Regions from separate parts of the Homo sapiens genome. Here region 1 is reported to be linked to region 2. The links are microRNA targets in miRTarBase. Many come from high-throughput screens and were not tested one by one. Region 2 holds a microRNA gene; the other region holds the end of a gene's coding sequence.
What was found. The annotated mature microRNA hsa-miR-186-3p reads GCCCAAAGGUGAAUUUUUUGGG and lies in region 2 at 2,793-2,814, opposite strand. An mRNA with a match to its seed (bases 2 to 7 or 8) in the 3' UTR can be bound and repressed. Matches are read on the target gene's strand: a 7mer-m8 pairs with bases 2 to 8, a 7mer-A1 pairs with bases 2 to 7 and ends in A, and an 8mer does both.

Region 1 (4,398 bases), not on the chromosome of region 2:
TACTCTGGAAGCCATCAAGTAGTACAGCTAATCTAGTATATGGTGTGTCCAGAAGTGATGGGCTATAAATCCAAAGAAGCAAACTGAATGGCCTTGAATTCCAAGCTTATGTGTTTGGGCTTGGTTTTGGGCTTAATAGGAAGCTTTTAAAAGTTCTGAGGAAGGGAATGCCATGATTTGTAGTTTTTATCTAGAAAGATAAATCTGGGCAAGACAGGGACTAGAATAGAGCCCAAGAGGCCAACTGCGCTATTGCCACTAGAACAGTAGCACTGGAGATCTCCGAAAGGTGCAAATACTGGAACCATCCTTGAGACTTGCTAATGATTTAGAAGTGAAGAGATGAAAGATGGAAGGGAAAATGTTATAGAAGCCAGGGGAAAGAAAAGTGCAAGATTATCAAGTGTCAGGTACAGTAGGAAACTAATAAAATCCTGCTGCATATAATAACTGGAAAGAAACACAAAGAGGATAGCAGTGTCAAATGAAGGGTACTCTAAATGGGAGACATATGAGCATATGTATAAGCCAATATGAAAAAAATCAGCAGATTGAATATTATTCAAGAGATGAAGGCTACTCTAGAAAACTGTGACAATGTTATAGCAATACAAATTATCTTGCCACTTCATTTTTTATTTAAATATGTGATAGTTTAAGCAGTAGTGCCTAAGATAATGCTCTACTCAGTAGACACTCATATGTGTGATTATTGGATGAACAACAACTCTGAGCTTGGAAAGCCTGGTTGAAGCTGCCATTGCAACTGGCCGTATTAAGTCCTTTGTATCCTCACTGTTCCATACTAGCTCAGCCTATGATGTGGACTTCAGCAAATGTGTAAGCAAATCTTTGTGCATGATGTGTGTTAAATAGAAGCATTAGGCAAAAAAGAATGTAAAAGTAAATGGGCTTTGTTTTGTTTCCTTTGCTGTTCTTCCATATATTATCTATTCTATTTTAGATTTACAAAAAGATTTCTGAAGACAGAGCTCCTCAAACCATTGTGGATATCTTCTGCCTTCAACCACAGATCAAATACTTCAAGAGCCATTTAATAAATATGGCAGAACTATATATGTGTCTTAAACCTCAAAGTAAATTTTCCTTGAGAAATAATTTATGTTGAAAAGATTTCCTGGCCAAGTGCAGTGGCTCACACCCGTAATCCCAGCACTTTGGGAGGCCGAGGCAGGCGGATCACCTGAGGTCAGTAGTTCGAGACTAGCCTGGCCAACATGGTGAAACCCCCGTCTCTACTAAAACTACAAAAATCAGTCGGGTGTGGTGGTGCATACAGTAATCCTAGCTACTTGGGAGGCTGAGGCAGGAGAATTGCTTGAACCCAGGAGGCAGAGGTTGCAGTGAGCTGAGATCACAGCCACTGGGCGACAGAGCGAGACTCCATCTCAAAAAAGAAACAAAACAAAAAAAAAAGTAAGATTTCCTGAGACGACCAAGGAGAGTGTCAAGGTTCCTGGAAGGAGAAATAAAAGGAGGCATAAGTGGATTGCAGATAATTTTGTAAAATTCAATATTCTACAAGGATAATTCTAAGGCTTCTGATATAAATACCCAGTTCTACTAGTTGCCATATATAGAGGTAAGTGAGCAGTAATAGGACTGTCATCTCAGCTCACTTGATACGTCATATGTTTGGGTGAATGATGGTTTTGTCCTTAAGTTTTAGACATTTAATTATATCTAGAGGGCCAGGCACAGTGGCTCATACCTGTAATCCCAACACTTTGGGAGGCCAAGACAGGCAGATCACCTGAGGCCAGGAGTTCTTTTTTTTTTTTTTTTTTTTTTGAGACAGAGTCTTGCTCTGTCACCCAGGCTGGAGTGCAGTGGCACGATCTTAGCTCACTGCAAGCTCTGCCTGCCAGGCTCATGCCATTCTCCTGCCTCAGCCTCCCAAATAGCTGAGACTACAGGTGCCCGCCACCACGCCCAGCTAATTTTTTTTGTATTTTTAGTAGAGACGGGGTTTCACTATGTTAGCCAGGATGGTCTCGATCTCCTGACCTTGTGATCTGCCTGTCTCAGCCTCCCAAAGTGCTGGGATTACAGGTGTGAGCCACCACACCCGACTGAGGCCAGGAGTTCAAGGCCAGCCTGGCCAACATGGTGAAACCCGGTCTCCACTAAAAATACAAGAAAATTAGCCAGGTGTGGTGGCGGGCACCTGTAATCCCAGCTACTAAGAAGGCTGAGGCAAGAGAATCACCTGAACCCATGAGGTGGAGGTTACAGTGAGCTGAGATCACGCCACTGCACTCCATCCTGGGCAACATAAATAAAAATTATAAAATAAATAAAACGTATTAAACTTGTGAAAATACTTGGGACTTTTTATGTATCTAGGTACTTCAGTTTTTAAAGTTTGATTTTGTGAGATGGGTTCTAATATGTCCGATTTCTCTTGCCCTGTTTTACAACTAATCTAAACAAAACAGTCATTCTAGTTTATATTCTGTCTTCCGAGAAACATTGAGAAGCAAGCTGTCAGGCTGGTGCTTTTAATGACAATGAAAATTTTCCTTCCTTTGCATTTCCTTTAACATTGTTTCCTCTACAATCAATCTTTTCTTATCTTCTGGTTTATATGAAACAGACTCTATAATGCAGTCAACACATTGATTCCTTGACCTATATTTTAAGAAAATTCCTGCTGGGTGCAGTGGCTCACACCTATAATCCCAGCACTTTGGGAGGCCGAGGCAGGTAGATCACTTGAGGTCAGGAATTTCAGACCAGCCTGACCAGCATGGTGAAACTCTGTCTCTACTAAAAATACAGACCTGGTGATGCACGCCTATAATCCCAGCCACTTGAACCCGGGAGGCAGAGGTTGCAGTGAGCCGAGATTGCACCATTGCACTCCAGCCTGGGCAATAAGAGTGAAACTCCGTCTCAAAAAAAGGAAAATTCCTCGTTGTTTGGTTTTTTCGTTTGTTTATTTGTTTGTTTTTGAGCCAGAGTCTCACTCTGTCATCTAGGCTGGAGTGCAGTGGAGCAATCCGCCTCCCTGCAACCTCCACCTCCCAGGTTCAAGCGATTCTCCTGCCTCAGCTTCCCGAGTAGCTGGGACTGCAGGTGCACGCCGCCACGCCCAGCTGATTTTTTGTATTTTTAGTAGAGACAGGTTTTCACCATGTTGCCCAGGCTGGTGTCGAACTCCTGAGCTTGGGCAATCCACCTGCCTTGGCCTCCCAGGTGTGAGCCACCTCACCTGGCCCAAAAACTCTTCATTATTTGAGCTTATGTGTACTATAGGTTATTAAGTCTTCAGGTTCTAGAAACAGTGGGTCGATTAAAACTCCTGAATACAAAATTACTAGAGACTCATTATTCCAGAACTAATCAGTAAAGAACTCAGAAGGAGAGTGGAAAGACTGGTATGCTTTTAAAAAGAGACTTTTTTTTTTTTTTTTTTTTTTGAGACGGAGTCTCACTCTGTGGCCCAGGCTAGAGTGCAGTGGCGCCATCTCGGCTCACTACAAACTCCACCTCCCAGGTTCGCGCCATTCTCCTGTCTCAGCCTCGTGAGTAGCTGGGATTACAGGTGCGTGCCATCATGCCCAGCTAATTTTTTGTATTTTTAGTAGAGATGGGGTTTCACCGTGTTAGCCAGGATGGTCTCGATCTCCTGACCTCGTGATCCACCCGCCTCGGCCTCCCAAAGTGCTGGGATTACAGGCGTGAGCCACCACGCCCGGCCTCAAAAAGAGACATTTTCAGCTTTCATTATCATTTTATAAATATGTCTAGCATTGAAGTGCCTTAACTCCTGGGCTCAAGGGATCCTCGTGCCTCAGCTTCTGGAGTAGCTGGGACTACAGATATGCGCCACCTTGCCAGGCTTACGTTTTATTTTGTTGTGGAGACGGGGTCTTGCCATCTTACCCAGGCTGGTCTCTAATTCCTGAGTTAAGCAGTTCACCTGCCTTGGCCTCCCAAACTGCTGAGATTACAGGTGTGAGCCACGGCGCCCAGCCAATGTTTAGTTCTTAAAGACAGCAAAAATATACCCAAGGACTACTGACTTCCCCTTTTCTTGATTTGCCAATTCAGTCACATATTAGAACTGTAGAAACAAAGGGGCAAAGAAATGGCTTCTATCTTCAAAATTGCCAACTTAAGAAACACGCTAGCCGGGTGTGGTGGCTCACACCTGTAATCCCAGCATTTTAGGAGGCAGAGTGGGCAGATCACTTGAGGCCAGGAGTTCAAGACCAGCCTGGGCAACATGGCAAAACCCCGTCTCTACAAAAAATACAAAAATTAACTGGGTGTGGTGTTGTGTGCCTGTAGTTCCAGCTACTCGGGAGGCTGAGGTGGGAGAATCGTTTATGCCCAGGAGGCGGAGGCTGCAGTGAGCCATAATCACCCCAC
Region 2 (4,328 bases):
TGTAAATAATGAATGACAGAACATCTATTTTGGGACATTATGGCTTAAAATGCTATTTACTTTTAACTTCACAAATAAACACAGCTGTATTGTTTTGAAAAGCAATGAAAGGCATGCACCTCTACTAGCAGATTTAGCACTTCTGACCAAGTAAGACACCAACTTCTTTAAAAATATGCTTCATGCACTGTACTGGATTTTTTTAAGATGTAAATTTTAATACATTATTTCTTTTTTGAACTTGAACGGGAACCAGAATGGGATGATCCAGATGATGACCTGTGGCGTCTGTAAGACATAATGGAGAGAGTAGGCATTCTAGTAAGCTAGAGCTAAATCTCAGCATTCATTCTTAAGACTGTGAAAGTATACAAAATTCAGTACCATGATGCTAGCAAAAAAATTAAAAATTGAGATAGGAACTTACACACATAAAATTATCTGATGTTTAGACTTTGGATATGAGCCCAGTTATCATATAAATACAATAAAAAATTCTCTACAATTTCAAAAGAATCTCATTTCAAAATATAGCCACCTCTCAATTATTTAAGATATCAAAGAAAAGCCTTGCAAAAATGTGTAAAATTACAGAAAATGTACAACAAAAGCATATAAACTTGGTAATGGAAGTGTGACTAAACCAATCCCTGTGACACGGTGTAGAAAGTGTAAGAAGTCTATTATGTAAAAAAGATACAGCAAGGCTTCTGTGTATGAGAAAATATACTCATAAATAAGTTTTGGAAATCTAGGTCACACAAGATGATTGTACAATTTGCTATAGGGTTATATTCATGCAGCTAGTATGAATAAGTCAATATCAACCTGGGTAAAGTAGTGGTGTTCCGTAGGGGTTGGCCCTGGGCTCAGGGTTGTTTAGTGTTTTCACCAATCACCTGGCTTATGGAATAGAGAACATGTTCATTAAGTTTAGATGACAACAAACTAGGGGGATTATATGTGGCTAAGATAAAAATTTGCAGAAGTGGTAAGAAAGCAACAGAATGAATTCCACTCAAAAACAGAGTAATTTTTTTTACAAAGAAACAAATGCAGAGAAACAAGACTGTGTGAAATCTTAACATCTAAACTCCAAAATGTGAAGAAGCAAAACTAATCATTCTGTACAAGTAGGAATCATGAGATAATCCTACCACTGAACCCAGCAATTAATAGACTTTACATAATCTTTATTTTCACAAGCTAATAAAATATGAAAAATTTGCAAAGACTACAAATAAAGCCATTAAAATGACTATATAATTGGGAACAAAGAGAAAATTAATGAAACTGAGTAATTAGCCTGTTGCAGAAAAGGCTGACAGATGACAGTTGCATTCTTCCAATATTAAAAGTGTCAGTACAGATAAAGTAACCTAATATAGGCCTTTCTCAAAAAAGATTTGGACTGCAAAATGAAAAATGTATTAGCTACAAGGAATAATTTCCTTATAGACAAAGGGCATGAAGCAATTTGCTGTGGAAATGCATTTACACATATTTAAATGAGGACAGATTCCCAATGATCTGAAAGTTAATTTTTTATTAGATGCTCTAGAATTCTTGACTATTAGTATTTAAAGAAGCCTAAGTATAAAAGTCAACTCATAAATTACTTCGACATACAGCTTCTGAATTGCAATCTCAAAAGACAGAAATAACCGAGAGTTGGCTATAAAAATTATAAATGGAACTAAAAATTTAAACAATAAAATGATCAAAGAATGGTTTGATCTACAATTCTAAACAACCTGATCAAAGTACAAAGGATAAGCAAAGTAATGTTTTTTTGAAGTTCAAAGTTGAAAAGTAGAAAGTCGGAACACAAGAGATAATAAAAATCTAACCCTTGACTAGGAAAGTTTACTTTATCTATTAAACACACTTAAGAACACCCATTCTTATTTCTACAGAAACCCAAACCTTTCGGGTGACCGTGATCTTGTTCGTCTTTTTTTGCGATCACCAGATGAAGAAGATCTAGAACGACTTCTCTTTCTGTTCCTCTCAGGAGAAGATGATGAACTTGAATAAGATCTTTTTCGTGGGGAAGAAGAGCCCCTGTGGGACCTGGAGCTGGATCTTCATTGATTGAGAAACAAATCAAACATTTCATTAAAAGAAGAAATAAGGAAGATTATTTAGTTATCAGATAGCTCCAAAAATAAACAGGATTTATAACAACTATGAAAATTTTATAAGGAAGAATACTTACTGCTTATTCAACAGAAGACTTCTGGATCAACCATGAAAACATTCTACTTAAACATTTTAATTTTGTCTCTTTAAAATTCTATCATGTGTAATTAAAACCCTGCTTACTATATCAAAATAGAATTTAAACTTTTTTTAAGGCTTTTCAAAGTATACACAAATATTATAGTATTATAAAATCAGCAGATAACTGCATTAACAGGACTTTACGTTTAGGAACTACATCCTTCCATTTGAGGATTAAAATATGTATCTTATATACCACTTCCTGAGGAAAATAAACATAATTCCATGTGGAATTATTCAACTCATTAAACTGTTATGGAAAAACCAGGTATATGGCACAGCAACAAAAGACTAGTAACTGTACTTAACTGCTAAATATTCAAGAAGAAATAAAAACTAACTTTAAGATGATTTATATTTACAATACTATTTTTATGAAAACCCACTACTTATGAAATATGAAGTGTTGACATTCACATGCTTCAGGTAGAAGTAAATGTGCAAATGTTTAAATACAAATTTTTTTTCTTCACTTGTATATTTTGGTTGAAGGAATTTAGCTCAAACTTCCCAAAAAATTCACCTTTGGGCTTAAAATAAAACCAGAAAGCCCAAAAGGAGAATTCTTTGGAAAGTTACAAGCAATGAAAAAATGTTTGGGAAGAATATGATGGGTGTTCTGTAAACCTTAATTATAATGGTTCCCAAAGGGAATACCAGAACTTAAGGATTTTTACCTATAAAGCGCTTAAATATTGTTACTAAATAATGGTAACAATAAAAAATAATTTGCTCTCTACTTCTATTTTTTTTTTTTTTTTTGAGACAGGATCTTGCTCTGTTCCCCAGGCTGTGGTGCAGTAGCATAAGCATGGCTCACTGCACCCTTAATCTCCAGGGCTCCAGTGATCCTTCCACCTCAGCCTATAAGAACACACCACCATGCCTGGCTGGTTGTTTTAATTTTTATTTTTAGTAGACGAGGTCTCACTATATTGCCCAGGCTGGTCTTGAACTCCTGGGCTCAAGCAGCCCGCCCACCTTGGCCTCCCAAGGTATTGGGATTACAGGCGTGAGCCACTGAGCCTGGCCTTGTTATCTATTTCTTATTGGCTTATAATGCAAGTGTGCACAACATTCTTTTCTCCTTAACATGATTATACTGTGGCAGCCCTTTAATGCTAAATTTGATTCAAAGCAGCAAATACTTTTACCAAAACAGCCACAGTTAGACTTCAATATGAATTTCCACAAATATGGAATTTCATTTTCTTATTTATTTTTTAGATGCCTTTAGGTCATAATAAATTAACTTAAAAACAAAGAGAGCATATTTTGACTAAACAAAGAAAAATTTCCTGCAAGAGCATCTTTCAAATTATGTTTCCCTCTACAGATGTGACTACATGCAACCTGAAACTTTAGAACACTGTTTACTACTTAAGACCACATCCTATCTCAACTAACCGACTATACTTCCTGATTTAGTTTTGAGTGTTTTGTGCTCTATAAATAATAGCGTGTGTAAAATTAGAAAGGAAAATGTATATACAGTACTCTAGTAACTTTATCTGATATAAATGGCAAATTTGTTTCTGAAAATATTGAAACAACTGCCGTGCAAAACAGGACCTGTTTTGAGGCAGGGTTATTTTTCTTCCTTTTAATAATGAAGAAAATTTTTCTTTTTATTTACATATGTAATTTTATTTGAACTACTATTAATTTTTTTTTTTTTTGAGACACTCCTCTGTCACCCAGGCTGGATTACAGTGCTGTGATCAAGGTTCACTACAACCTTGAACTCCTGGCCTCAAGTGATCCTCCCACCTCAGCTTCCCAAAGTGCTGGGATTATAGGCATGAATCACTGTGCCTGGCCATATATAATCTTAATATACTAGAGATGTGGCGATAAGACTTGGCTTCATCTTCCTACTTCATAACATCTTAGTGCCAAAATAATAAACGCTGCATATTGCAAAATAGCCACCTGATTTCAATCATGGGAATGTCTTGGCACACTGCTGGCAATGGAAACATTTCATGGTGAGAAAATTAAGCTGAGGCAAGTGCATTAGTTTTCTAATGCTAAAATAAAATCGA

Region 1: the mRNA of PRIM1 is a reported target of hsa-miR-186-3p. The part of its 3' UTR that is shown has no 7-base or 8-base seed match.

What each region holds. Positions count from the first base shown.
Region 1 is chr12:56,728,301-56,732,698 of GRCh38, reverse strand. It overlaps PRIM1 (DNA primase subunit 1), which reads left to right. Exons shown (of 13, transcript NM_000946.3): 13 at 965-1,119. The coding sequence ends at 984. Among named protein-coding and RNA genes, the nearest start is that of NACA, 5.2 kb to the right of the region's middle.
Region 2 is chr1:71,064,850-71,069,177 of GRCh38, forward strand. It overlaps MIR186 (microRNA 186), which reads right to left and starts at 2,867; the gene lies at 2,782-2,867. ZRANB2 (zinc finger RANBP2-type containing 2) reads right to left here. Exons shown (of 10, transcript NM_203350.3): 9 at 1,927-2,085; 10 at 1-288. The coding sequence ends at 225. ZRANB2-AS1 (ZRANB2 antisense RNA 1) reads left to right here. Exons shown (of 3, transcript NR_038420.1): 3 at 1,917-2,335. RefSeq lists a silencer at 3,654-3,703.